2 separate regions of the Homo sapiens genome follow, and region 1 is linked to region 2. The links come from fine-mapping of genetic effects on gene expression. A gene starts in region 2. The other region holds a variant in brackets. All regions are shown on one strand. Distances are from middle to middle. Region 1 overlaps LOC101928105 (a long non-coding RNA gene). Region 2 holds the start of SIAH2 (siah E3 ubiquitin protein ligase 2).

The links.
Region 1: its variant is fine-mapped to the expression of SIAH2 in whole blood (TOPMed, PIP 0.99).

The regions. Positions count from the first base shown.
Region 1 is chr3:150,721,039-150,736,133 of GRCh38, reverse strand. It overlaps LOC101928105 (a long non-coding RNA gene), which reads left to right. Exons shown (of 3, transcript NR_121657.1): 3 at 1,270-1,663. Among named protein-coding and RNA genes, the nearest start is that of ERICH6, 25 kb to the right of the region's middle. RefSeq lists cis regulatory regions at 2,137-2,828, 6,077-6,469 and enhancers at 8,235-8,734, 9,979-10,478, 10,479-10,980. The variant C/T (reference allele first, on the strand shown) is at 6,306.
Region 2 is chr3:150,757,133-150,772,227 of GRCh38, reverse strand. It overlaps SIAH2 (siah E3 ubiquitin protein ligase 2), which reads left to right and starts at 9,059. Exons shown (of 2, transcript NM_005067.7): 1 at 9,059-9,795. The coding sequence starts at 9,379. SIAH2-AS1 (SIAH2 and CLRN1 antisense RNA 1) reads right to left here and starts at 10,291. Exons shown (of 3, transcript NR_187306.1): 1 at 10,248-10,291; 2 at 9,821-9,889; 3 at 3,553-3,683. LOC124909447 (a long non-coding RNA gene) reads left to right here and starts at 1,597. Exons shown (of 2, transcript XR_007096132.1): 1 at 1,597-1,664; 2 at 4,588-4,712. RefSeq lists enhancers at 8,064-8,123, 8,642-9,588, 11,405-11,504, 12,739-12,798 and a silencer at 8,634-9,533.

The sequences.
Region 1 (15,095 bases), 36 kb after region 2:
CATTTCACCCAGTGAAAGATAATTATGGCTTGGACAGAGTGAGCAAAGGTAGAGATTAACAGAAATGGGCATATTTGGGCTATGTTTTCAAGGTAGAGTTAACAGGAGTTGCTAAAAAGTTGGATGGGTGGGAGAGGGGTGATGATTATAGGAATAAGGAAAAGAGAGAATCAAGGATGATCACTCCTAGGCTCTCATCCTGAGTAAATGGGTAAGAAGTTCCATGTATTGGGGCAGAGACTAGTGAAGGAGCCAGCATAGGGCAGAAATCTAGAGAGACACATGGCTGAAGACATCAACCAGACAGTTGTTTGTATGAGCTTGGAGCTCTGAGGAAAGGCCAGGATGGAAATACCAAAATGTGTGCACCATCACTATATGTATGGTGTTTAAGCTGTGGGGTGGAAGTGAGAAGACCCCGGGGTTTGGGCAATGGAGGGAGGTGCATACAGGCAGAAAAGAGGGTGGGACTCAGGCCTATCTCCTGGGACTGCCAACCTTTTAGAGGTCACATGAGGAGCCAGAGCCTGGAAATGAGGGTGGATAGAAGAAGTGGCCATCAAGATGAGGGGAACTCCTAGACAGTACGGCATCACAGAACCCCAGGAAAAAAATCTGGCTCAAGTAGAACAGAGGAGTTAGCCACTGAGAAGACAATCGAGGTCATGGCAAGATGTCAAGAGCAGTCTCATGGAGTGGAGAAGACAGAAGCCCAGAGGAGAGCAGGTGAGGGAGAGAACAGGGCATGGGTGAGGAGAGGAGGCAGGAGCTATAGCTATAGAGCTATAGACAAGTTGCTATAGACAAGGCTTTTAAGAAGTTCCGCAGAGAAGACGTAGAGAAATGAAGCAGTTGCTGCAGGAGAATAGTGGGATCAATGAAAGATTTTTTTGTGTTTTAAAAATTGGAGCCACTAGAGCATGGCACTGTGCCAATGGGAAGGATCCAAAAGAGAGAGCGAAATGGATGATGTGGAGAAGGAGGCAATCACAGCGGGGGCAAAGTAATCAGAAAGACAAGTTTCCAGGGCAGATTACTTACTTATGCAGTAGAGATGGTCAGGAAGCAGCCATTATTGAAATAGAGAGAGGTGGGAAAAAAATTGTGCCAACAAGCAAGGGTTGAAGCAAATTATGTTTAGAAGGCCCTGGTGAGGGCGTCTGTGCATATCCAGCCCTGAACAGGAGAAAGGCACTGGCTGCAGCTCAGTCTAGAACATCCCAGGCATCTGAGAGGTTTACACCTTAGCAAGCTGTGGTGTTTTTCTAGGTTCCATGAAAACCTGGAAGAAATATTCCTGAGGACCATCCAACACCATTTCCCTGAGAGACAAGCTGTAAGTGCTGTTCTAGTTACAGATCCGAGTCCCTGGTACATTGATATCAAGTAAGGGTGCATGCAGCTCAGAAGGCAGTTTCCATTACACTGGACAAGAGTGTGGCTGCCTGAGTCCTAGAACTGCAGTGGCTTCTGCTGACAATGTGAGGAGTAGCTGCCCTGTCCAGAGTGTGGCCCCGCACGCTGCCCCCTCCCCTGGAGGGACTGAAGAGAACAGCTTGGAGCATGCCCTTCCCTTTCCCTTATCTCGCCCACTATGCTAATGCTGCTCATCCCTCAAGATCCGAGTTATTCCTCCTCAATTCAATACACACCAATCAACTGCCCTGTGCTTGGTCCTGTACTTTATATCCTTGATATGGTTTAATTTTCAAAACAAAACACCTTGAGGTGGGTATTATCACTCCCATTAACAAACAAGAAGGTGGGGGCTCAGAGAGGCTAAGTAACTTGCCCAAAGTCACACAGCTTGTAAGCAGTGAAAATGGGATTTACACTCAGGAATGTAGCCCTTCCAACAGCCCTGCTGCCTGCAAAAGTGACTCAGATATGGACTTTACAGTCTAGCAGAAGTCTGAAAGCATCAAACAAAGAGGCAACTTACAGTAGCATGAAATATGCAACCACAACTACATCAACTATGTTTGCAAAGCAAGTTAAGACAAGGACGTACAAATTGCTATGGAGTTCAAAAGAGGATTGGAAAAGGCTTCCGGGAGAAAGCAGCGCGTGCATTGGGCCTTGGGTGTTGGGTAGGTTTTTGCAAGGCTGAGGTAGTTAGGAGGATGTGCCAAGAGATCAGCCTCTCCTGGATCAAGACCAAACCACTCAATGCCTAAGTCCAGCCTTGTCCACCTCCCATCCACTTCTCAGGGCTATTCTTCTCTCACACTTCCTTTGTTCCCGCGTTCCTGACACCCACACAAGGTCAGACACGTAGAACGTGCCGAGTGAATATCAAAGTTCAGCAGTGTCTTGTCTGGTCCCTAATTCTAATCTATCCTTTAACCCATCCTCATACTAGCTAAATTTCAGGACGAACCCTGTCCACAATAAAAACTACTTCTTCTAGAGAATTTGCCCTGCCCATAGTTCCTGGAACACCCCATGCAAACCCCCCACTAATTCACACACCCACAAACTTGTAATGCAGGCCACAGCTGATAAGACCTTACCCAGGCCAGCGGTTCATTGGCTGAGCAGCCACCAGTCAGATTCTCTTGAGAGAGTCAAAGACAGTCAGTGGTGTGCACCAGAGTCACACAGCCCTGGAAAGTCAGCACACTAGCAAAGGAAAAGCCTTGATAGCAAGAGGCCCCTAGGGGTGGAGGGAGCAGCCACTGCCGCCCACCCTGCCAGGTCCTAATCCCTCCCCAGGGAGCCCAGAAACACTCCATTTCCTGCTTTGAGGCATCTTGGAGACAGCCTGCTGTGCCTTCACAATTAATTCTTCTTATCACTTTTTTTTTCAATTTTAGACCATATTTATTCACTCCCACCACCAAAATTGAAGAAAGTAACACACAAAGTTTCTCCCTCCTTCTAATTTTGCTTAATTTTATGATTATTGCTGTCAAGATGTATAACTTTTTTTTTTTTTTTGAGATGGAGTCTCTCTCTGTTGCCCAGGCTGGGGTGCAGTGGTGCCATCTTAGCTCACTGCAACCTCCGCCTCCCGGGTTCAAGCGATTCTCCTGCCTCAGCCTCCGAGTAGCTGGAATTACAGGCACCTGCCACCATGCCCGGCTAATTTTTGTATTTTTAGTAAATACAGGGTTTCACCATGTTGGCCAGGGTGATCTTGAACTCCTGACCTCAAGCAATCCACCCGCCTCAGCCTCCCAAACTGCTGAGATTACAGGCGTGAACCACTGCACCCAGCCAAGATGTATAACTTTTAAAAAAACATTTTATTAGTAAATTTTCAAAAGGAAGGAGAATAATATAACGAATTCGATGTGTTATCACCAACTTCAACCATTATCAACTCTTGGCCAGCTGTCCTGCATCTATACCCTCACCTACATCCACGTGTGGATTTCTTTGAATCAAATCCCAGGCATCATATCATTTCATCTGTATATGTTTCAGTATAGAATATCTAAAGATTAGGACTTTGAAACATACTCACAATACTGTTTTTATATCTATAAAAATTATAAATTTTAATATAATCAAATATCCAGTCAGAGGTCACATTTCTCTGGTTGATATACAGTCTGTTTGAACTGGGATACATATATAAGATCCTTACATTGCTACTGATAAAATGCTTATGTCTTTTTTAATCTACAGATTCTCCCTCCATCTCTTCTCCTTTCTTGAAGTTATTTATTGAAAAACCCAGGGTTCCTATAGCAGAGTTTCCTATAGTCTCATTGCAACCCCAGAATATCATTTTATCAGATTCAGATTTGATTTTTCTTTTTATAAGACTGCTTCAAACCAACCAGGGAACTGTTGGGGAGGAAAAAAAAGAAGACTGCTTCATAGGTGATGGTAGTGATGTGTATGTCTATAACACAAAGGACAATGGCTGTTGCTCTCTTCCTCTAACTCTGTCTGTCTCTTTTAGTGATATTATCGGCCATTGATGGCTCATATTCACTTGTGAGGCATTACAGAATGATCTTTCAAATCATTCCTTTTTTATGAACTGGAAAACTTCTATAGTGACAAACTTCCTCTTTTCAACTATTGGTTTACCGTAAGGTACATTTTACAAGGGAAAGATAACATAAATGCCTGATTATTTTCCTTTATCAGTTTTCAAAACAATGAGGTAGTTTTCTAGCATCCTCCAAAAATAAAACCAATGAAGTAACATTTTAAAAATATATCAGGCAGGCCAGGCATGGTGGCTCATGCCTGTAATCCCAGCACTTTGGGAGGCCAAGGCAGGCAGATCATCTGAGGTCAGGAGTTCGAGACCAGCCTGGCCAAAATGGTGAAACCTCGTCTCCACTAAAAATACAAAAGTTAGCCAGGTGTGGTGGTGCATGCCTGTAGTCCCAGCTACTTGGGAGGCTGAGGCAGGAGAATCATTTGAACCTGGGAGACAGAGGTTGCAGTGAGCCGAGATCACACCACTGCACTCCAGCCTGGATGACAGAGCAAGACCCTGTCTCAAAAACTAAAAATCATTATGTCTCTTAAAAAAAAGAATATCATTATGAATTCATGGATTTTAACTTTTTTATGTATTTCAATTCATTGCCATTATTATCCTTGTTGATACTCATATCATTCCATCTTGGCCTGACAAATGCATATTCAGCTTGGTTCCTGAGTGCTTTTGACATGATCACAAATAGCCTCTGATGTTCCAGGCTCATCTTGTTCTTTTCCTGCACTCAACATGTAATCAACGATGTCTTCAAGGAACCTTGATTTCTTTAGTGTGAAACAATGATTCAAGACCACAGTCTAGGCAGTAGGAGCCCCCGTTATTCAAACTTGAGCCAGTTTGAATGGATTTTCTACCCTGGAGCTGAATAGATGTTGACTAGAATTCTCAATGTTTCCACCAAAATAAGTTATGAAAGAAGCAAATCTGGTCACACAAATCTAATTTAAAATCTTCCCTTTTTTAGACAAGAGTGTCAAGATAATTCAATGGAGAAAGAATAATTGTTTCAACAAATGGGACAACTGGATATTCACATGCAAAAGAATGAAGTTGGATCCCTGCCTCATGCATGTGTGTGTGTGTGTATATATATATAAAAATTTACATGACAGACAGACACTGTCCTTTGTGTTATAGATGTACCCATCACCACCATCAACTATGAAGCCATCAGGGTTTTTTCCCCAATAGTTCCCTGGTTGGTTTGAAGCAGTCTTGTAAAAAGGAAAATCAAATCTGAATCTGAGCAGATTATATTCTTGGGCTGCAATGAGACTATAGGAAACTCTGCTATGGGGAACCTGGGTTCTTCAATAAATAATTTCAAGAAAGCAAAAGAGATAGAAGGAGAATCTATAGATTAAAAGAGACATAAGCATTTCATCAGAGGCAATGTAAGAATGTTTCTATTATATATTACATATTATATATTCATTCATTTATCCAACACACATATATACATACTGCTTCCCTACACTATGCCAGGTACTGTTCCATACACAAAGGATCCAGCAAAATGTACAAAAACTCTAGCCCTTGGCTGGGCATGGTGGCTCATACCTGTAATCACAGCATTCTGGCAGGCCAAGGCTGGCAGGTCACTTGAAGCCAGGAGTTTGAGACCAGACTGGCCAACATGGTGAAACCCAGTCTCAACTAAAACTACAAAAAAAAATTAGCCAAGCGTGGTGGTACAAGCCTGTAGTCCCAGCTACTCAGGAGGCTGAGGCACAAGAATTGCTTGAACCCAGGAGGTGGAGGTTGCAATGAGCTGAGATTTCACCACTGCAACTCCAGCCTGGGTGACAGAGTGAGACCCTGTCTTCAAAACAAAATAAAACAAACAAGCAAAAAACCTCTAGCCTTTGTGTTGCTTACATTGTCATGGAGAGAAGAAGGCAATAAACAAAATATATGCAAAGATTTTATACAGTATAATACATTGAAGATAGTCAATGCTATGGAGAAAAATAAAGCAGGTAGAAGGGATGGTCAGTAGGGGAGTAGGGGAGAGGAGGGATCGCAGTTATAAACAGAGTGATATTTGAGCAAATGCTTGACGGAGGTGAGGGAATGAAACATGCAGCTAATTGGAGGAAAAACATTCTAGGCAGGGGAAATAACAAGTCCAAAGGCCCTGAGGTGTGCATGTCTCGTGTGTTCAAGGAATATCCAGGGAGCGGAGTCCGGGGAAGGAAAGTAGGAGCTGAGGTGAGAAAGTGCGAGGAGAGAAAAACTTTGCTATTTTATTGGAGCAGAGCACAGCGGCGTGTTCATGTCTAAAAAGAGTAGAAATTATTCTGGATGGTGACTCCACAAGGGGAACATATGCAGCTTG[C/T]CTGGTTTCAAGATAAGGGCCATAATCAGTGGCACACAGGAGCCGGCACATACCAACTTGCAACAGTCAAATGTTTAGGAATCTTGAGAGCCAGTTGATAAACACAGCTATTATTAAAAATTAAATTCTAGATTTATAATTAAATAAGTTATATTTAACAGTATTATATTTAACAGTATATATTTAACAGTAGCAGTATTTAGTACTTAGAAAGTGGCAAAAGCAACAAATTGGGGCTTGATTTATTAGTTGTTGTCTAGACTTAAGAAAATGATGACGAAAATGTTAATAATAGAGCTTTAACTTAGAATTATGTCATACTTGGAACCATTACATTGCAAATAGAAAAAAAAGTTGAAGAAATATTTTTCTAGCAGTCAAAAACTACTGCCCAAATCAATAAAGAAGTCACTCACATCATTGATGACACTGATGAACCAGTGAAATTTTGACAAACATCTGAAAGTTAAGGCTTCTTCATTTTAATCTTACTGGTACCAACCAGCATTTATGTCATAATTGCTTGTTTGTCAATATCAACCACAGGTTGGCATACAATATATGCCAAGGGTTCAGCAAAATACAAGGTTCAGATACAACGGTTCAGCAAAAAGCAATGAAAACATTCTGAGGGAATCAATAAGCTATATGGAATTTACAGTTTAGAATACTGTATAATTTCTTATTATTTGTACATTGGGTGCTACAATTCCTTTATATCAGTAAGATTTATCTGACACTTGCATGTGTTAAAAAAAAATTTAATTTCTGGAGCACCAGTTGTTAAACATTTACCAGCACACCTCTGGCTACAATCTGATCAAATCCAATTTTACACATCTTAGAGCCCAGACAGATAGAGGAGAGAGAGGCCTCTCAAGGCAACGAAGCAATTAAAAGGAATGGAGTTACTTCAAAATCATTCTGCTCTAGAATTTGGAGTTGGCCACGCTGGAGACCAAGAATTCCTTTGTGTTTATATTTATGATACCTTCTATTTACAGTAGGTGATTCTAGCTCTCCATTTATGGTAGTGATACAGTTTCCTTTTCAAGTAAACTTGTTTAAAGTACCAAAAAAGACAATTTCGAGAAAAATGTTAAGTAAATGATAAACAGGAAATACACAGAAGTGACAAAAATTCAAATGATGACCTGCAGTATCTCCACTGGGAAACACTAGCTCAATGATTAAGAACTCAGGCTGGCTAGGCACGGTGGCTCACGCCTGTAATCCCAACACTTTGGGAGGCAGAGGTGGGCAGATCACTTGAGGTCAGGAGTTTGAGACCAGCCTGACCAACATGGCAAAACCCCATCTCTACTAAAAATACAAAAATTAGCTGGGCGTGGTGGCAGGCACCTGTAATCCCAGCTACCCAGGACGCTGAGGCAGGAGAATTGCTTGAACCCAGGAGGCGGAGGTTGCAGTGAGCCGAGAACATGCCACTGTACTCCAGCCTGGGCGACAGAGCAAGACTTCCCCTCAAAAAATAAAAGAACTCAGGCTTTCAAGCCATATCTGGGCTCAAATTCAGACACTTCTAATTACCGCTACCTTTGTGAATTCATTGGCCTCAGCGTCCTTGTCCATAAAACAGGCACGCTGCCAACTCCACAGGGTTGCAATGAGTTGTGAGATCCAGGGAAGCCCAGGGCCTGGCACAAATGGGAGCTGACAAAAGAGGGGCTCCAGGGAGAAGCCTCATCTGGGGCCTGGCCTCCTCAGCCCAAAACAGGCAATGCCTTCAACTTTCTCTCTGACGTGTATAAAATGTGAATGTTCACAAGCACACACACGCAACAGCAGCACACACTGTTCCCTGACTCAGCGTTCTCCCCTAAGGCCCTAAGTGCTTCCCTCTCCTATCTGCTGGAGCAGCAGGTTCTTAGGGGTTCCTTAAACCTCAACAGAGCCCTCAGTGACAAGTCCCTGGTTCTGCTGGACACTCTGGTTATAAAGAGGAAAAGACTTCTGCCCTGCCCCAGAGAGCTTTTCCCAGCTAGTGCGGGAGACTGGTAAACAGAGTAGAGCTGGTAAACAGAGTACCTGATGATGACCACGGGAATGGCGTGGTCCCCTAGGTCTCCCTGCAGAGCTCCCGTTGCTCTTCTCTGTTAGTCTTTTTTTTTTCGGGGCGGGGGGGTGATGAAGCCTTGCTCTTGTCGCCCACGCTGGAGTGCAGTGGCATTAGCTCACTGCAACCTCCGCCTCCTGGGTTCAAGTGATTCTCCTGCCTCAGCTTCCCTAGTAGCTGGGATTACAGGTGCCTGCGACAACGCCTGGCTAATTTTTGTATTTTTAGTACAGACGAGGTCTCACCATGTTGGCCAGGCTGGTCTCGAACTCCTGACCTCATGTGATCCACCCACCTCGGCCTCCAAAAGAGCTGGGATTTCGGGCATGAGCCACCGTGCCCGGCCTCTGTAAGGCTCTTTTGTTTGCAAGGAATGGCAACTCGGTCAAGGCCTCAAGTGAAAGGCCTCTATTGTAATAACAATACTGCAGCCAACACTGGCGACATTTGTGCTAGAGAGGCTGCAGTGGCTCCTAGATCCCTGCTCCATGCCTCACCAACTGCTCTGGGCCTGGCAGGCTGACCACTGCGTTTTGTAACCACCTAACAGCCTCATCCTTTGGCCTCCAATCAGATTGGCCTTTGGGTATCATGGGCAGGAGATCAGAGTTAGGGAGAAGTCTTAAGAGTATGCATGCTTTCCACTCCTGCCCTGTAGGGCCAGGTTGGCCCAGCTGCACTCTTGTCCAGACCCCCACAGTTCCTGCCCTGTCACCCTGTTTTGAGGCTGCTGGGTGTCTGATAACTACTTCCTCCCTTCGCCTCATCAGGCCTAGGAGTACTAAAGACTTCTCAGCCAGTTATAGCCCATGGTGTTCCACCATCCTTTGTCCCTTCATCTGACCTATACTTTTGTAAATAGTCTCTCAGCCTCTCCTCAGTTACCCAATTTGGGTGTCCTGCCCAGACCCAGACCGCTACCTGCTTACTGAGTACTTCATATGCACCAGCAGGCCCTTCTCCACATCTTATGCCCATTAACTCATTCAAGCATCAAAACAACCCTATGAAGCAGACACCAGTAACAGCCCAGTTTACAAGTGAGGAACCTGAGAAAGAGTGCTCAGTTACTTACTCAAGTTTACATGGTGGGAAGTAGCATGGCCAGGCAGTGTCTCTGCTGACGCTACTCCGTGTTAGGATATGTACAGGAATAGGAAAGTGCGTGTCTATTTTCACTTCCTGGAGCACAGGACCAGCCACACCAGCAGGTTTCTGGCACTCTGGAGTGTAGTTCAGAAATGGAAATCTCACCAGGCCCCACTGGGGTCTGAAGCCTCACTATCTCCTAGCCGCTGGTGTTGGCACATCGGTGTTACTCAGCCACATTCAGTCTGCTTCTCCTGCTGCCAGCACCCTGCTTCTCTCTGCTCTCCTCCAATCCTCACTACTTCTGCCTAGCATCTTCTCTGTGTATCCTTTGATTTCTACTCCTTACCAACTACTGCCAAAGAGGGGACCACTTGATTCGGACAGCCACTAGTCGACTTTAAAAGTCACTGGTCTCAGCAGGGTGCAGTGGCTCCCACCTGTCATCCCAACATTTTGGGAGGCTGAGGCAGGGATCACTTGAGGCCAGGAGTTCAAGACCAGCCTGGGCAATATAGCGAGACCCTGTCTCTACAAAACAAAAGTAACTGGGCATAGTGGTGTGTGCCTATAGTCCCAGCTACTCAGGAGGTGGAAGGATCACTGTGTCCAGGAGTCCAAGGCTGCGGTGAGCTATGATCATGCCACTGAACTTCCAGCCTGGGTGACAGAGCAAGAACCTGTCTCTAAAAAAAAAAAAAAATTAATTAATTAATTAATAAATATTTAAAAAGTCACTGTCTTTTCCCTGAGTCAGGAGATGCATGGTTACCCGACGAGATATAGGGGTCAATGGGAGGGAAGACACCAGCAGACCCACACAGGATTGTTTCATGGCAAAGTAAACAGAGACACACACGAGCAGGAGATTGCACAGCCTGCTCCCAGGCAAAGGTAGACACATTCTTCTAGTGGGTGGGGAAGTGGATACACCCTCCCAGCCCCTTCCGGCTGTGCTGGAAGCTCTGGCTGCTTGCTGGCTCGCCCCAGTGGCAAGAAGCTGATGCAAAACAACCCTTGCACATTACCATGAGACTAGGCGAGGCGAGACTCAGTTTCCCAGGAGCACCCCAGCAGACTGGGGCCTCAGGCCTACCCCAAGTCCATTCCTGCAGGTGTCCACTGGCCAGCAGTCATGGCGACAATGAGAGGGCCACCTAGTGCAGAAATACAGACCAGGCCATCAACGCAAAAGAAGCCAGTGAGGGCCCGTTCGCTGACCTCTCGGAGTGTAGCAGGCACCCAGGTCTTGACAGACTCCTCTATAGCACATTCCTAAGGCACCCTCCGCTCCAGTCTCCCTGAACTTCCCACAGTTCACAAACATACCGAGTTCTTTCACGACTCTGTGTCTCTGCCCAGACTAGTCTCTCAGCCCAGAAGGTCTTTTCCCACCTTGTTCCTGTAAACTACTTCCTGTTCATCCTTTAAAAGACGCTCCTGAGAAAACCTCCTCAGATACCCCAAGCCAGATCAGCTGTCCTGTCTCCTGTGTTCTTCCTTCCTGGTTCTCTGGAACAGCATTCACCTTGTGATACACTGACTTTTTTTTTTTTTAAGCTGTCTGTTCTCTCTCTCTCTTAAACCAAGAACTCCTCAAGAGCAAGGCCTGTGACTGATTCCGTTTTATATTTTAGGGCCCTTTCCCAGACCAGGAGCACACTAGATGTTCCCCAGGCAAGTATTAAAGAACTGAATAGATGAAGAGCAAGGAACATCATCAAAAAACAGCAAATAGGGTGGTGACTGTTGTTTCCCCAAAGCAAGCAGAGCCTGAGACAAAGCTTATATGAAGTTTATTTAGGAAATGCTGGGCATGGTGGCTCTCACCTGTAATCCCAGCACTTTCAGAGGCCAAGGTGGGCAGATCACCTGAGGTCAGGAGCTCGAGACCAGCCTGGCAAAGTTATACACATTCTTATGGTGTATACTACATGGTGAAACCCCCATCTCTACTAAAAATACAAAAATTAGCCAGGCGAGGTGACATGTGCCTGTAATCCCAGCTACTCAGGAGGCTGAGGCAGGAGAATCGCTTGAACCCAGGAGGCAGAGGTTGCAGGGAGCCGAGATCACACCACTGCACTCCAGCCTGGGCAACAGAGCGAGGCTCCCTCTAAAAAAAAAAAAAAAAAAAAAAAAAAAAGACATTTATTTAGGAAAGTGATTCCAGGCAACAGACTGAAGGACTGAAGAGGGGAGTAGGGGAGGAAAGAAAGCCAGCACAGGTGCATTATCCGCCGGTCACTGCCTTAGGTAACTGAGGCTCAATCCCGCTAGGGGCTTCTGAGGCACTGTGTAGAAGGACCTCAGAATTGTCCACTGAGAGAGAGAAGAGGGAGGTCTTCACCCTCCAGTTCCCATCCCCAGCTCATCAAAGGGTACCCCCTATCACGGTAAGTACCCTGCAAGTCCAGAAGGCAACCAGGAGGCAAATGTGTCCTGTGCCACGCTGCAGGATCCAGGAAACGTCAGGCAGCCAAAGCCAGAGCCATCAGCCACACCTGCACAAAACTGGTTGCTACAGCAGTGGCTGAAGTTGCAGCTGGGCCAACAGGATGTGCAGCATCCATTCAGGTCTGTGTAAGAGTAGGCGAAGTTAAAGCTAGAAAAGTCGCGTTAAGATTATATTGTAGAGGGCCTTAAACATCAGCCCAAAGCTTTATTTGCCACTAAGGATTTCCACACAATGCAGTAATATAAATAGCAGTACCAAGGGGGTGATTTGAGTTCCTTTCAGTCGCCTCCCTCAATAAACCCAATCTGCCATTCTCCAAAAAAAACAAAACAAAACAAAACAAAATATTATCTTAGTAAAAACAATGCAAGTCACCTCCTGCTCCTCTCATTAATCAGTTGCCATGCTTAAGCCACTCTATAGAAATACTAAGCACCCAGTCAGGTGCAACTGTCTCTCTTACCCTTCTATGAGGAAACTCCAATAAATAAATTGTTTTAATGTTTAGATCTCTGTGTCCATCTTTAAGATAAAAAAAAAAAAGGCGAAGCTTAGGAACCTTTAAGGAAGAAACCAGTCAAGGTGGCTCATGCCTGTAATCCTAGCACTTTGGGAAACCAAGGCAGGAGGATTGCTTGAGTCCAGAAATTTGAGACCAGCCTAGGCAGCATAGCATAGACCCTGGAAAGAAAAGAAAAGAGAAAGAAAAAAGAGAAGAGAAAAGAAAAGAAAAGGAAGCAGGGGGAGAGAGAGAGAGAAAGAGAAAGAAGATAGGAAGGAAGGAAGGAAGAAAGGAAGGAAGGAAAGAAGGAAGGAGAGAAGGAAAGAAAGAAAGAAAGAAAGAAAGAAAGAAAGAAAGAAAGAAAGAAAGAAAGAAAGAAAGAAAGAAAGAGAAAGAAAGAAAAAGAAAGAAAGACAAACCAGTCAAGAGGGCCCTCCTTGTTCAATCCATAAGGAGTCTTCAGATGATAGGGAAGTTCCATTCTAATTTCCAAAAAGACTTAGAGGAATTATTCTCTGATTTGCCACTATTCAGAACAGTCTGGGAAGCATTTCCCTATCTCCTCCTGACTCTGGTGGCACACCTATATGAAAATCTGCCATGGTTGCTGTCTTTGTCCTTTTGTGGTAAATTAGATTTTCTTGAACAGTCAAAGATCAAAGGCAAGATGAGAGATTAAGATTTATTTTCTTATATGAGTCATAGCCTGGATCACCAAACAGAGTTCACCAAATGTTTTGAGCAGCGATGACATGACTGAGACAAGATTATGGAGTTCTGGTGTGACGTTTAATTAAAACTCTTCATCTGATCAAGGGCACTGTCACTGTTGGTGACAATGTAAATTACCCATCACCCAGAAATTCTGCCTCTGGGAATTTATCCTAAGACACTAATAAAGAATGTGGGCTTACACTTAGCTACACGAATATTCACCAGACTGCTCTTTAAAAAAAGCAAAAATTGAGAAACAGCTTAAATTCCCAAAAGAAAGGGATTAGTTTTAAAAAAAAAAAAAAGATAGATGTAGGGCTGGGCATGGTGGCTCACACCTGTAATCCCAGAACTTTGGGATTCCAAGGCAGGTGGATCACTTGAGCTCAGGAGTTCAAGACCAGCCTGGGCAACATGGCAAAACCCTGTCTGTACCAAAAATACAAAAAATTAGCTGGGCATGGTAGTGCACGCTTGTGGTACCAGCTACTCAGGAGGCTGAGGTGGGAGGATGAGGCCAAGGTTGCAGCGAGTCAGATCACGCCACTGCACTCCAACCTGGGTGACAGAGTATAGACACCATCTCAAAAAAAATTTTTAAAAGATAGGTGTTCCATGCTGCCATAAATGTAAACACTATATATATGTACACACACACATATATTTATATATTATACTCTGACATAAGGTTAAAAGAATCTGTAGTATTCCCCAGGTTAATATTGGATGGATGGGATTATGAATATTTTAGATGTTCTTTTTGCATGATTTTCACATTATGAGCATGAACTTTTATAATCCAGAAAAATAATGAAAAATATTCACTGGTTAGGGGTGCAGTTTAGAGTCCCATTGCTCAGGCATAAAGTGAGCATAAATTTCCCTCTTTTTCTGTCTGCAGCTCATGAAGCAGTTTAGTCCAACAGACATTATCCAGCTTCTCTAGGGCATGCCCAGCACTGCAAACTGCTGGGGATGCAAAGGTGAAGATGGGGTACGTTTCCTGCCCCTGAGGGACTCAGGCCGAGTGAGCCCATATACACCTCAACAGAAATGCACTGGACATCTCAGGGAAGCCTAGAATTTGAAGCACTCCTGGGCCTCCCAGAGACTAGATATTACATTAAAGTGCGTTGTAAGGCAGCACTATACTAATGTAGGCTTCCAAATGCCTCCCATCGGAGGAACCGGCTCACGGGAGAAGCTAAGTGCTCTCAGGAGAGCTGGGGTGTGGAGTGAACAGCACGTGAGGAAATGGTTATGTGACATCTTTATGGCAGGCACATACAGGCAGGATTTTTTAAAATGCCGCAGCTATCCTTCCAGTAGGAATACTCATCCGATAGAGTAATAATACTTCCCTCCTATAGGAGAATACTACAAGACACTATATTAAAGGAAGACATTTCACTTTCCTTTGATACTAGACATCTTCTATCTTCTTGTCTGAATTTCAAGTGTGCTGATGCCGATTTTCTTCATTGCAATTGCATGCTTCCCTCTAGTGTTCGTCTATATTATTACACCCTGTTGTAATAGGTTGAAGATGGAGGGGAGGGAGGTCTGGGGGAAAGTAAATGTATAGGGCATGGGATAGAACTGTCGAAAGCATGCAAACAATAGCCACTTAAATGGTGAAACATAATCAATGGTCCAATTTTTTCTGTAACAATAAAAAATGTTCTTGTTTTGGGTCGGAATAACGACAGCTAATATTTATTTATCATGTGCCAGGCACAATGCTAAGAGCATTGCAGGTATTAAATCATTTAATCCAATAGAAGAAATAAGACGTAGTGTTTCATAGATCACTAGGGTGATTATAGTTTAGAATAACCTATTGTATATTTCAAAATAGCTAAGAGAATAATACAAATGTTTCCAGCAAAAAGGAAGGACAAGTATTTAAGGTGGTGGCTGTCCCAATTACACTGATTTGTTCTTAACAAG
Region 2 (15,095 bases):
CAGGAGTTCGACACTAATGTGGGCAACATAGCCAGACCTTGTCTCTACAAAAAATAAAAAATCAGCCTAGTGTGGTGGCGGGTGCCCATGGTACCAGCTACTCAAGAGACAGAGGCCGGAGAATCACTTAAGTCCAGGAGTTCGAGTTACAGTAAGCTACATATCATGCCACTGCACTCCAGACTGGGCAACTGAGTGAAACCCAGTCTTAAAAAACCAACCAACCAACCACACATAACAGACAACTTTTGGAGTATCTGGCCAGCCCCAAACTGCTCTTGTCAGAATTCCTCCCACCCACCCACAAGGGCAGACGAGTGGCAGCCATGTTTCCACCCAGTGAGCCTGTCTGTGTGGCCTTAGCTTAATGGACTGGGAATGGTCACGTGACCTAAGCTGTCCAGTCAGATTCTCTCTTCTGAGATTTGGCTTAAATCTGAGATCTGGCAGTGCCTCATCCCTCAGGAGAGGCAGCTGGAACACAGGATGATAAACTCAAAATCTGCAGGCTGGCTACCTTTGACCTTGGGCTCTGGAAAGCAGTAAGAGCCAGTTTGCAGAAAGGGGAAGGGTTAAATAAACTCTATGACAAATAATTGGAGAGCACAAGTTGCCTGTTTACTGGAGGTTTGCAGCTCCTGATTCTAGGGGTCTCAGGCCTGTGGACACTGCCCACCCCTGTTTTCCATGAGACCCCCTGAAGTAGTCTGAAATAAGTTTCATCTTATTCGAAGGAATTTACAATGGACCTAGCCCAAGGCTGGGCATACAGTAAATATTTTCACACTTGATGAATGCACCAATAAGGTAAATGGTTTGCATCTTATTACTCAATGCTATAGCACTCATTACACGGTAGATCAGCTATTCATTTGCCAGAATTATTTATGTTTATGCTGTGGAGACAGTGAAACAGGGGCTGGAGGAGGGAGAGGCTGGTGAGGTGGTGGAAGGCAGAGTCCCTAGGTGACTTGTGTAGGCCCTTGGTGAAGGCAGGGGCAGCAGGGATGGCGTGGTGAGCTAGGTGTGCAGGACGCACAGAATTTGGCTAAGCTGGAGGGAGGGAGACATAAGGACACCTCCTGGAGTCGAAGCAAGACAAACAGGGCAGTAACGGGGCCACAACCAAGTCGGAGAAGACAGAAGGGGAAGGAGCAGCTTTTCTACTTTTTCTTGGAATTTCTGTAGCATAGACAGCTGGAGGAACCAATTTTAAAAATCACCTGCTTTCCATTATGGAGTCAGATTCTCCCTTTTATTACCATCTCTTTTCTTGGACTCAATGACAGTCTGTTATTGGATTTTTAATCTGACAAAACTGATGTCAAAGGAAAGGAATGTATTATTTGAGGCCTCAAGGTTATGTCAATTTTGCTGGTTCTCAGTGATCCACACTGTCTGTTGGGTTAGGCTGGCGTGGACGAGGCTCTTTGGGGGAATCTCAGATCAGACTTAGGGATGTGGGGATGGAGAATAAGGAGATTATTCCGGACTCTCTCCCCTCTGCCTTTCTTCACTTCTCACTAAGGGATAGAGATCTAAGAACAAACAGTCCTAGGAGAAATGCTGTATATGCAACTCTGCCTCAACAGCGGGTTCAGAAAGGAGGCCAGCAGGGATCCAAGGATGGTTCCTAGAGGAGAGAGGACAGAAGACTCCCCAAGGTAGGAAAGTTTCAGGAGCTCTGTACCTTCGGGTATACGCTGCCCTCTCTCTGGACTGCAGTCTTTACCCTCTTCTTTGGTTGTCACATTCCTACTCTTGCTTTTTCTTGATGTCTTCCTCACACTTGCCCAGGAAGTGCTGAACTTCACCCTCCTCTCCTTTCCCATCTCCATAATACACGTATCACACTGTATTAGATTTTCCATATGATGTCTGGCAGGACAGCCAAATGGTTAAGAGCACAGTCACTGGAGTTAAAACAGCCTGGATCCAAATCATGTTTCTGTCACTTATCAGCATGTGACCTAGGACAAGGGATTAAACCTCCTCTTGGAGGTTTGTTCATCGCTTAAAGGGGATTAATAGACTACATGCCTTAGAGCGTTCTAATAAGGATTAAATGCCATGTGCTTAAAAGAGTGTCTGGGGGCCGGGCACAGTGGCTCACGCCTGTAATCCCAGCACTTTGGGAGGCCGAGGTGGGTGGATCACCTGATGTTAGGAGTTTGAGACCAGCCTGATCAACATGGAGAAACCCTGTCTCTACTAAAGATAAAAAATTAGCAGCGCATGGTGGCTCATGCCTGTAATCCCAGCTACTCAGGAGGCTGAGGCAGGAGAATCGCTTGAACTCGAGAGGTGGAGGTTGTGGTGAGCCTAGATCACACCATTGCACTCCAGCCTGGGCAACAAGAGTGAAACTCCATCTCAAAAAAAAAAAAAAAAAGAAAAGAAAAAAAAAAGAGTGTCTGATATCCAGTGAGCATTGTGTAAGGGTTTTATAATTAATGTTATTCCCCTACCAGGCTACTATCTCTCCAAAAATCAAGCCTGGGCTTGATATTATCCATGGCCTCCAAATATGACACTATTGACTGAATAAATCTTTGCACTTAGCCAGCTGACCAGTGGCCACAACCTGGCTCATAACCTTCATCTCTACTCGACCCAGGAAGCCCCTCTTGGAGCACTAGATCCTCCAACCTATTTCCTTCTTTCTGGGATCTCCAAGTTATACTCACATACTGCCTTTGGGTTACTCTTCTTAAATTTAATATTTAATATTAATTTAAATTTAATATTAATTTCAGCAAGTCACCTCTCAGACCCAAAGACCTGACTGAAGCTCCTAGTTCCTTTCTCAGCAGTATAATGCCCACCTTTTCTGGCTGGCTAGTCTTTATCACCCATTTTGGCACCAACCCTGCAGCTAAATAAATCCTTCACTAAAATAACCCCCAGAAAGGCAAGGACAACACACTTTTTAAAAAATAACACACGAAACACATGAATAAATTCTCATTGTACAAACAAAAAAGAACAAGAGAAGAAAAAAGAAATAAACTCCAGAAATATAGGAAGTATGTATGTTTTCCATACTGCATATCCATTCACATTCCCCCTCCCTGGAGGCAGCTGCTGCCGTCAGTTCACTGTCTTCTTCCAGACCTTTCTATGCCCTTGTAAACATATAGTCATTTTGCCTTGCACGGTATTTTCTACAGAAATGGAATCATTTTGGGTTTTTTGGCTTCAGTGTTTTTTGTTTGTTTGTTTGTTTTTTGAGACGGACTCTCGCTCTGTCGCCCAGGCTGGAGTGCTGTGGCACAATCTAGGCTCACTGCAACTTCTGCCTCCTGGCTTCAAGTGATTCTCCTTGCCTCAGCCTCCCAAGTAGCTGGGACTACAAGTGCCCACCACTAGGCCCAGCTGATTTTTGTAATTTTAGTAGAGACAGGGTTTCACCATGTTGGCCAGGTTGGTCTCAAACTCCTGACCTCAAGCGATCTGCCCGCTTCAGCCTCGCTAAGTGCTGGGATTTCAGGCGTGAGCCACTGTGCCCAGCCACAGTGTGCTTTTTTCATGTAACAAATTGTCTTGGAGAACTTTTCTAAATTGCAGAGGGTTTTATAGGATGGCTTTCCATAGTTCTTTTTCTTATTGATGGACACTGAGGTTGTTTCCAAACTAAATGATGATTTCATTTTCGCACATCTTCTATCACATCAAATTATCATCTGAAAAATATGGATTTACATAAAAATAAGAAATAAGAACATTAATTCTGGTTTTGTTGGTGTTCAATTTTTTTGTTTCTATAGCTGTAAATAACAAAAATAATATTCCTATATTTGTTTCCTTATATTTAAATAGCATTATAATAAAAAATCATTTTACATATAAGCCTTGTGACCTGGGACAGGTGTATTAGTTATATATTGCTGAGTAACAAATGATCCCAAAACTTCATGGCTTAAAACAACAAACACTGAAGCCAGGTGCAGTGGCACACACCTGTAGTCCCAGCAACTTGGGAGGCGGAGGCAGGAGGATTGCTTCAGCCTGGGAGTTCCAGGCTGTAATGCACTATGATTGTGTCTGAGAATGGCCACCGCACTCCAGCCTGGGCAACATAGTAAGACCCTATCTCTAAAAATAAAGATAAAAATAAAAACAGCACATATTCATTATCTCACAGTTTCTGTGTTCAACTCAGCTGAGTCCTCTAGTTCAAGGTGTCACAGGCACAATCACTTGTGAGCCAGGGTTGCAATCATCACAAGGCTCGGCTGAGAGAATCCACTTCCAAACTCACTCACTGTTGGCAAGCCCAGGGTTCTCACTAGCTGTTGGCCAGAGACATCAGTTCCTTGCCACGTGGACCGTTTAGCAGAGCTACTCCCAACATGGTAGCTGGCTTCATCCACAGAGAGGGCTCAGAGAGTGTTACAGACTGAATACTTGTGTCCCCTCAAAATTCACATATTGAAACTGTACTCCCTAATGTGATGATATTAGCAGGCAGGGTCTTTGGGAGGTAATCAGGATTACAGGAGGTGCTAAGGGTGTAGCCCTCATGGAGAGGGTTGGTATCCTTAGAAGAGTCCTGAGGGAGCTTCCTTCCTATCTCTGCTACGTAAGGACACAGTGAGAAGGCTGCCATCTACAAACCAGGAAGCAAGCCATCGCTAGACACCTGTGGCACCTTGACCTTGGTCTCCCCGTCCTCCACAACTGTGAGAAATAAATGTTTGTTATTTAAACCACCCAGTTTATGATATTTTATTATAGCAGCTCGAGCTAAGACAGCAAGCGAGAGGAACGGAGGGACAGTAAGACAGAATTCATAGTCTTTTTTAACCTAATCTCAGAAGTGACATTCTATCACTTTGACCATATTCTGTTCACTTAAAGCAGGATCAGCCCTCATTCACAGGAAAGGTGTTACATATTGGGCGACACCAGGAGGAGGGATCCCTGGGAGCCTTCTTAATGATGACTTCCTACAACTCTCTTGGCCTCTCTGTACCTGTTTTGTCATCTATAAAGATCTACCCTATAAAAGACATTGTGAGAATTAAGAGAATTAAAATATGTAAAGTACTTGGAACACTCCCTGGTACAGGGTGAGCACTAATTAGCTAAGTGTGGATACAAAAATAATGCAAATACATAGAACTGCTCTTAGTACACAGTGCTAAGTCCATGATGGTTGTTCAAAAAAATGCTTGAATTAGGAGTACTTGAGTATAGGAGTTTGAGGCCAGCCTCGGCAACACAGTGAGACCTCTTCTCTACAAAAACTAAAAAACTAGCAGGGCGTGATGGCACGTGCCTGTAGTCCCAGCTACTCAGGAGGATCCTTTGAGCCTGGGAGGTTGAGGCTGCAGTCAGCCATGATCCAGCCACTGCATTAAGCCTAGGTGACAGAGTGAGACCCTGTCTCAAAAAAAAAAAAAAAGATTTGAATTAAGAGACCTACAATTATTCAAAAGAAGTTTGAGCATTTGGAAATTACCCCAGAAACAGATGAAGTTAAAAGTTCCTACTATAATTACCAGGGGGCCTTACATCACCTCCAGATTTCCCACAAGCTTCCCCTGATGAGGAATTTCCATGCAGCAAGCTCCAATGCATACCTGAGTCATCTCTAAAAAGCCAACCACAATTTGCTCTGCAAATGCACATTTGCCTGATGGCAGAAGTTGCCTGATTTGCAAAACCACACAATTTGTAAGTTACAGAAAAAAGGGCAAGAGCTTGTCTGCCTAGCTGGAGCATTTCTCACTGTGCTCAGCAGTTTAGTGAAATTAGGAACTCACCTGTGAGGTGTTTTTTTTAAGACTCACCCTGCTATTTTAAGGAAAGAAAAGGCTACTCAGTACACCCCTAGTCTTTCAAGCTTAGCATAGAGCAGATGGGTTAAGGAGAGGTGTCCTGCTTGACATATGCAATCTGGGACTCAGTAGGTGGGCGAATGAGACCAACCTCTCATACAGTAGATGTGGTAAATGAGTCATGAATCAGGAGATAACAAAAGGCTGGACCCTGCTCCCCCAGACCACAAAGTCACTCACTAAACAGGCCAAGAAGCAGCAGCGACACTCCAAAGGGTAAATAAACCTCCCAACAACTCAACTCAGCACACATTTTGAGTACACGCTAAATTCGACCTCTGAGCGGACTGCCCGCTGGAAGAGGAGGCTCTAGCTCATAGTGCCCGGTATGCAAAGGTCACCTTTCTTTGTTTCAAAAGTCACCAAGGAAGGAGGAAGAAGAAAGGCGACTGGGAAGACCAGCCTGGTCATTGATGTGGCTCACATAGCAGACCTATCCACTCTCCCCCTGCCTACCTTCAGCAACTGCCCAGAGTTTTTTTGTTTTGCTTTTGTATTTTAATTACCCTGGTTGACTTAATCAGGTGTGCAATGATGTGAAGGAGGAAGAAAGAAGAAATTTCTCTATACCAGGGGAGGCATCTGCCAGGGTAAGAGTGGATGGGTTCGCTGTATTTTTAGAAAAATAAACCAAATTCTCTCTGCAGAGAATTGCTTTTCCTGTTATTTCTTTCAACACCTCCCAAACCAAATTGTTTTCTGAATGACCAGGGCCTATCTAGCTGGAACACTTAAAGCTCGTGTCAATGGGGCAAGGGTGAGGACTCCAGTCTCCTAATGAGAGCTAGTAAGAAGCCGTGGGGATGGAGGTCATCACACAGAGAGGCTAGAAGTGGAAGGAAAGAAAATGTGTTCCATTAATAAATTCCAAATGCTTTGATTTTAAATTAAGAATGAAAAATATTACATTTCCTCCAATAACAGTAAAACAGTAGGTGATTTTTGTGTTATCACTTATATTTTGTGTCATAAAAAGGTGAAAATGAAATAAATAGAACATGATTTAATTTTTCTCTCTAGACCAGCTAAGGAAAGAGTTTATGTAAAGTTTGCCCACAAAATTTAGTGCTTTATTATAGGCTGAACAACTGTTTTCTGACTCTGTTGAGTGTGCTAATCTTAACTGTTTAACAAGACTGTAAGTAGGAATCAGGCATAATTTAGAGGCATACAGACTAGTAGTTAAGAAGGGCTCCTAGCGTGTTCCCACATTCTCAGCTGTGTGATCTTGAGCAAAGTAACCTATGTCTCGGTTTCCTCAACTGTAAAATGGAGATAACAGTAGTATTCATCACAGAGAGTTATGATAAATACTTAAAACTATCCATGCCCAACATACAGTGGGCACTCAATTAACATTAGTTATTATTTTATGCTCCCTACCTATCCAAAAACTCAGGTTCAGCCATGTTACTAAAGAGCTTCCAAAAACCTACAAAACCTAGTGTTGTTGTGTGTTCTTAAAAAAACAAACAAAACCCTACAGTGGTTTACCCCTATCATTGAGGTAAATGTCTTATTAAGCCAGTTGAGGCTCCCCTTGTGCTAACGCCACACCCCTACACTCCCGTTATATCCCCTCCAAGTCCCAATGCAATCCCAGAATACATGCTTTCACTCTGTGCTTTTTAGCTCCTGCTATAATGCCTGCCCACCCCGTGGTATCTGAAATCCTTCTTCTCCCACGAGTGCTTGGTTATTGGGCCTTGCTCTCTTACTAGAATGTAAACTGCATGAGAACCATTCTCAGAGCTCCAACAGTAGCTGACACATGATAAATGCTCAGGAAACATTTACTGAACGATTGAATACACCTATTAAGTTTTTTCAAGATTTATACCAAATTCCATCAATTCCATGCATGTATTCTTTCTACAGAAGCCCTTTGTAAGATTAAACTTTATTTCTTCTGGGCTCTTACGCCATATTTCTTGGACAAATTGTATTCATTCATTTTAAACATCCACTAATATTTTTAAAAGATAAGAGCTAATGTTTAAACAGTGCTTATGATGGGCGAGGTTGTTTTAAAAGCTTGAAATATATTAAACTCATTTACTCCTCACTGCCCCACCTATAAGATAGGTATTTTTTTTTCCACTTTTACAGTTGGAGGGAACCATTTTTCACTCAGTCCTAACAGTTGGTCCTTACCTCTGTGTCTCCTATAAATTTCCGATTTCTACCTAAGGTAACCCTTTCCCCAATTCCGGAATCGTTGGCTCAAGCAAAGTCTGCAGAAAAACAATTTTAACTCGGAGCACACAGTTACATTTGGACATGCGGTTCACCCCGGGCAACCGTGCCCTCTAGCGCTTCTGCTGGGCGCGCAGGGTGGCCCTACGCCTCGCAACAAAGACTCGGACTTCGGCCGGCTCTCTACCAAGCGGACGCAGCGCCTTACACTGGAGTTTCACCCACTGTCTTCAGAGACCTCACGACCCAACCTACGTTTCTGACATTTCTAGATGATCTCGAACTCTTAGCCAACGCTGCCCATGAGCTCCCTCCTCGGCCTGCTATACGAGCCAGGGGCGCTCAATTCAACGAAGCTTCCTCCTGGTCCGCTGGGAAAGGAATAAAGGGAGCTTACATCCTCCCCACCGCCCCCCTCTTTACTCAACCCCACCGTTAACTGTACAAAACTAGGTCCTGTGCCCGCTGCAGACCCAACTCGAGCCCCTCGCCCTGCTCCCACCCAATGCTTCTCGTCCTGACTCCGAACACAGAACGCGGGTGGCCGCTTCGCCCTCTTCTCCTGCGTGCTGGTGACTCAGCCCTGAGAAGAGAAACCTCTCGGTTTTTTCCGACTAGTGCAGGGGCGCCCGCGCCCCGCCCCTGCCCGCCCGCGTCCGGTCCCACCCACCGTCCACGCTCCCGCCCCGCCTGAAGTTGCCTTTCTCGTTTGAGCTGAGGGACGCGTCAGCCAGGCACCCCGGGGTGTGGCCAGAGGACTTCGGCGACGCTTCCCCGAGAGTAGCCCCCCTCCTCAACCCAGAAAAGACAACCCCGCGGGGCTGCAGCGAGCCAGGCATGCTCACTGGCGCAGGCCCGGCCCGCAGCCCGAGCAGGAAGCGCCGGCGCTAGGCGGCCCCCTGCGCTGCCAGCTGGAGCCGGGCGGAGCCAGCGCCCCGGCGCAGGGTGGCTCTGCCAGTCCCCGCGCGCCTGGGCGGCCGCACACGTGTCCAGGCGTCACGTCCGCGCGCGCCCCCGGGGCTTGCGTCAGCGGCTGTTCCAGAAGCGGGTGGGCCAGGGCTCTGCGCACCGCTGGGGTTCGGGGCCCGGGACGCCGCCGGGAGGAGGGCACCGCGCGGGGTCCGACGCGGAGGCGTGCTCGGAACGCCGGGGGCTGCGGAGTGCATCAGCGCGGTCCAGCCCTCCGCCTGCCGGGCGCCGAGCGTCTCCGCCGCCCGGACCTGGGCTGGGCGCCGTGGCGTTGCCTCGGAGCTCGCTGCCCGCGGGGCGCGCACCGCCTTGACCCGGGCGGCCCCGCGGCAGGCAGGCGCCCGCAGTTCCATGGTTGGTTCGGAGCGCGATGAGCCGCCCGTCCTCCACCGGCCCCAGCGCTAATAAACCCTGCAGCAAGCAGCCGCCGCCGCAGCCCCAGCACACTCCGTCCCCGGCTGCGCCCCCGGCCGCCGCCACCATCTCGGCTGCGGGCCCCGGCTCGTCCGCGGTGCCCGCCGCGGCGGCGGTGATCTCGGGCCCCGGCGGCGGCGGCGGGGCCGGCCCGGTGTCCCCGCAGCACCACGAGCTGACCTCGCTCTTCGAGTGTCCGGTCTGCTTTGACTATGTCCTGCCTCCTATTCTGCAGTGCCAGGCCGGGCACCTGGTGTGTAACCAATGCCGCCAGAAGTTGAGCTGCTGCCCGACGTGCAGGGGCGCCCTGACGCCCAGCATCAGGAACCTGGCTATGGAGAAGGTGGCCTCGGCAGTCCTGTTTCCCTGTAAGGTAAGCCCAGGGACAGCCCACGTACCTCCGCCGGTGACCTCAGGGACTCCGGTATCCGCCAGCCCACTCGCAGGCCCGGAGAGGCGGGCGGCATCTCTCATTTAAAAAAAAAAAAGAAAAAATGTTTACACTTCGTCCACCCTCCCTCAAGCCCACTTTGGGTGTAGGTCTGGGTTGACATTTACCGAGTAATAATTGTTAATAGACAATTAACAGATTAATTGGCATTTGCTGATCGTTAGAACATCGTAGCTCACCCGGCCCAATGCCCGCGTCCTCTGCAGACGTGTATTCGGGTACTCTCGGTAGGGCTGGGCCGCACCAGTAAAACTTGGACCGAGAAACTGACTGTGTGGGGATTGAGGAGGGAGGAAACGGGCGAGCTAAACGCCCCCTTTACCAGCGCTGGGCTCGGCTGAATTGATAATTGGAGTCCTGCACCCCGCGCCTACCGTCTGCGCACCCCTGACACGTGGGAGCTCTCGGGATTGTAGCTAAAAAAAGGGCGCCTACAGCCTGTTTTCCTCTAGCTAGAAGAAAACCCTGCAAGCCACGCCTTTTTCTCTCCTAGCCTTCCAAAGACTGGGAAGGACTGAGGAGTTGTGGCTGCGTTGTTGTACTAAGTGGGGTGAAAACAGTCAATCAAGAAATTAACAAGGGCACTCAAGAGCTGTTGTTACAGTTGTTTAAAGCTCATCACTTCATTTTTTATTTAATGTAAAAAGTTTTCAATGCCCTTGCGAAAAATGCAAGCCACCAAGACAAGAAGTAAAATGAAAGACCAAGATCTCTCCCCTCCTTTCCCACCATTGTTAGGTTTAGTGTGTATCTTTTTAAACTATATATACATACACCCTCGCAGCTAAATATAGAATCATAGATGTCAGTGTATGTCAGGGAGGTTTTTTAATACCCACACATAGATGTAAGTTTTTCTCCAAAAATGGCATCTGCAACTTGCTGTTCTTAAATTCATATTATCACACATATTTCTCTATGCCTGAAACCTAGTCGACTTCATTGTATTTTAAATGGCTGCATAGTATTGCATTGTGTGGTCATATTATAACATTTGTTTACCTGCAGCTATTACGTGGAAACCTTCAGGAGCAGTTTCACAGACATACTTGTCTACGTTATAACCTAGAAGTATACTGTAAAGTCATTTTCTGAAATTAGAAGTGGAGATAATGTCACTAATACTTTCCAGTTTTTTTGTAAAAGTAACTTGCGCTGCCTCTTGGGCCATTTAAGCTGTCTTGCATTTCTCCTTGGTGCTGCTTATTTTATAGGACAAGAGCTCATTTTTAAATTAAAAATAATCCACCAGAGAATTCAGGCTTGGGACTCAGGTCAGTAAAATGAGTGCTTTAATTTGGTCTGCTGCCCTGCTGCAAATCAGGTTTAAAATAGCATATTTAAATAAGAGTTTGAATCGGTGTTTGGACTAGGGTGTTTCAGGCAACCTTAATAAATTGCTGTTAACCCCTCCTCATATAGTGCTTACTAATTCACTCAGCCCAGTTTCTCAAAATTTAGATAAAGTATTTGCATAGTTGTCTTAGGGTTGTGAAAAAGGTGACAACCTAGTGGTTGGAAAAGGTTTGGTGGTAGTTAACATAGAGTGGCTATTTGATGCTTGAGATATATTGCAGGGGTGGGGGATGCCCCATAGGATTTCTGGGGAGCCATTTTCTCACCCCTTTACTTTCCCTTAAACGCGCAGCGGCTAACAAAAGAAATGGCTTTTAGGTGAGTTTTAGTTCACAAATGAGCATTTGATATTAGTCAGTAATCCATAATTTGTTTTTAAAATGTAACCATAATAGAATTGTGTTGTTCCCAAGAGAAAGGGAAGGAAACAGTTATGCTATATGGAGCATGAAGTTTCACTTTCAGGATCTAGAACTCTGGTTCCTATGAAAGCATACGTTCTTTCCTAACGTGAAACAGGCTACTGAAATCAACCTTGAAGAGTAGTTCTGGGAATCAGGGGTTCTCAGCCTTTCTGTACATGTCAGTGGTTTTCTGAGTCTCTATTCTATAAGAATGCAGTGGGGTAAAGCTATTACTTTGCAAGCTGAAATTTAAAAGGGCCAATTATTCCCCTGCAGACCAAGAACCAAGCTTAGGATGTGATCTTGGGGATGCTTTTGTGTGTGCATGTGTGTGAGTTGTATAAAGCTGGGGTGTGTGTCCCTCACCTTTGGTTGATCAATAATCCAAACTATTGGCAGGGCAGCTCAGCCAGTTAGTCTGGATAAACCAAACTTGAATGTATACATAGGCCCAGCGACCAACCAAGATGTGTTAGTTGTAGAGGATGAGAAACAACAGAGAGCCGTAAGGCCTGTATCAAACTTAAAACAAGGCAGATCTGTTTACCTAGCCCTTTGGCCTACAGTTTGAGGCTCCTAGAAATTATGGGACTGCCTTTTTACTGTCCCCACCTGCTCTCAGAATCTCTCATGGGCTGGCTCATGTGAAAAAAACCAACGTTGAATAAAGTACCAGAGCCCACATCTCAAGAGCTGCCACTGTTTGCCTGAAAGACCACCTCCCAGGGCCTTGATTTCCTCATCTATACAAATGAGAGATGAATCTGCTTGACTTCTAAGGACCTGTAGCTTCTAGCATTCTATGAAAAGAAGGGAGGCTATCTGGAATGTTATTGGATGCCCTCTATCTGCCAGTTACTTTGCAGGGGTCAGCTTTTACTAGTTTGCCTTTTTTTTTTTTCAGATGAGGAAACTCATGCCTACAGAGTGGTTAAATGTGAAGTGACTTGTCAAATCACACAGCTAGTAAGAGGACCAGTCCAAGCACCTGCATCTCAAAGGCACAGATGTTTTGTCCTACACCTTACTACGTAGGGATTTCGAATCTGAGTGTATACTCAAGATTCTGAATCATAACTCAAGGTTGACACCAGTAACAAAACCGTCTGGTTGGATGAGTTCACCAGATGGGCCTCTTATGGGACCATCCCAAAATGACAACATACATACTCACTATGAAATTCATTGGCAGGAATTTTGTAGGGCATGTAGGGTAGGAAGATGGGAGGGTGGGGGAAACCTACAAACCTAGTATTTTGTGGGGTATCATCACAGCTCTGGACTGCTTCAGTTGGCAAAAAAATGGATGTATTGCCAAATAACTATCCCACTTAGGTTTAGGGTAATTAATTAAAGGCTAGAGTGTTGCCAGCACCTTTGATATGGGGAACCGGATGCATTATTAGCTCAGATCTTTGGGTGTGGTGACTCATGCCTGTAATCCCAGCACTTTGGGAGGCAGAGGTGAGCAGATCACCTGAGGTCAGGAGTTCGAGACCAGCCTGGACAACATAGTGAAACCCTGTCTCTACTAAAAATACAAAAATTAGGGCCAGGCGCAGTGGCTCACGTCTGTAATCCCAGCACTTTGGGAGGCTGAGGTGGGTGGATCACCTGAGGTCAGGAGTTTGAGACCAGCCTGACCAACATGGAGAAACCCCGTTTCTACTAAAAATACAAAAAAGTTAGCTGGGCATGGTGGCACATGCCTGTAATATCAGCTACTCAGGAGACTGAGGCAGGAGAATTGCTTGAACCCGGGAGGCAGAGGTTGCAGTGAGCCAAGATCACGTCATTGCATTCCAGCCTGGGCAACAAGAGTGAAACTCAGTCTCATTAAAAAAAAAAAAAAAAAAAATAGCCAGGTGTGGTGGCAGGCACCTGTAATCCCAGCTACTCAGGAGGCTGCGGCAGGAGAATCGCTTGAACCCAGGAGGTGGAGGTTGCAGTGAGCTGAGATTGTGCCACTGCACTCCAGCCTGGGTGACAGAGCAAGACTCTGTGTCAAAAAAAAAAAAAAAAAAATGGAATGTCTAATAGTGTATGGCTTTCTTCCGCTTGGGGTATTTTTTAATCCATTCTGTGGCTTGTTCCATGCCTGAGAACTTTTGACATCCTGTGCCCAGACTTAAACTCACCCCTTCAGTGTGTGGGTTTAGGGGGAGAAGTGAAGGTTGACACATTCATATCAACAACATAGTCTACTTTACCATCCAACGATGTATTTTGATATCAGCCAAGTATTTCTCTCTACAACTGTGAGCAATGCTAATCCACTCCAGCCTTCTTACACTGTAATGATACCTTTTCTTTGTCCTCTCTGAAAGTTTCTAGTAGCATATCTCCAAATAATTATTGAATTTGAAAGCCTCAGCTGGACAAGTCTTCTCTGTGGTTGAATTGTGACAATGTCTGTGTTCCTTAAAAAAATAAAAAATAACATAAAACCAAGTAAGGTTAGACAAAACAGTTGAAAGTTTAAAATCCCTTGGCCTCATCTAGTTCAGTGGAGACAAACTTTCTAAATGGGAGGAGGGCCATGTAATGAGAGGAGAGGAGAGGAGAGAAGTATTTGATGCACTCATGGCCTCAGGGTCAGGGAGACCTGGAGGAGCAGTGGAGATGGTGGAGAGCCAGAGAACAGGTGCCACCTCCCAAGAGGCAGCCTTTACTCACCTCTGGCTGATTGGTGGGGTTGGGGATGTGGGTACAGGCATATCAGACCTTTAGATTTTTTTCAAGAAAAGCCAGAAATCTGGATCTTTTTTTTTTCCTTTAAGAGATGTCATCTCACTATGTTGCCCAGGCTGGTCTTGATACTCCTGAGCTCAAGCAATCCTCCTATCTCGGCCCCCCAAAGTGCTGGGATTACAAGTGTGAGCCACCGTGCCCAGCCTGGATTTTTTTTTTATGTTAAATATCTCGATTTTTTTTCTAGCATTGGCTGACTTCACATGTATAACCACCACTTGCAGACAAAGCGAACCACCACGTCTCCAGGCCAAATTCCAGCTGCCAGCATGCAGCCTCTGATCTGATTCTCTTGTAGAAGCATTCCTTGAGCCTGGAAGTTCTCATTTAACTCTTGCCATACATGAACTTTGGAACTCTGTTAGGCCCTAACTGTTGGTGATTTTGTAGCTTGTTTTCTTTTCATCTTCATTTTGCCAAGAGAATATTATTTTCTGGCCATCAGGAACCCTCAGATGATGGCCTTGTGACTAGATGTTTGACTCTATACAGGTCAGTTTCTTTTTTGCACCTGAGGGTCTTTAAGAGAAGGGATTGGACTAAATGATTATCCCAAGGTTCTTTCTTACCCTAAAATTTTAAAATATAGTAAGCGGTCCCAGTGAAAAGAACGTGAGCCAGGAAACAGAAGACCTGGGTTCTCGTCCTGGCTTTGTGTGACTTTGGTCCAGTCACATACTTCCCTGACCCTGTTTGTTCATCCATTAGAAA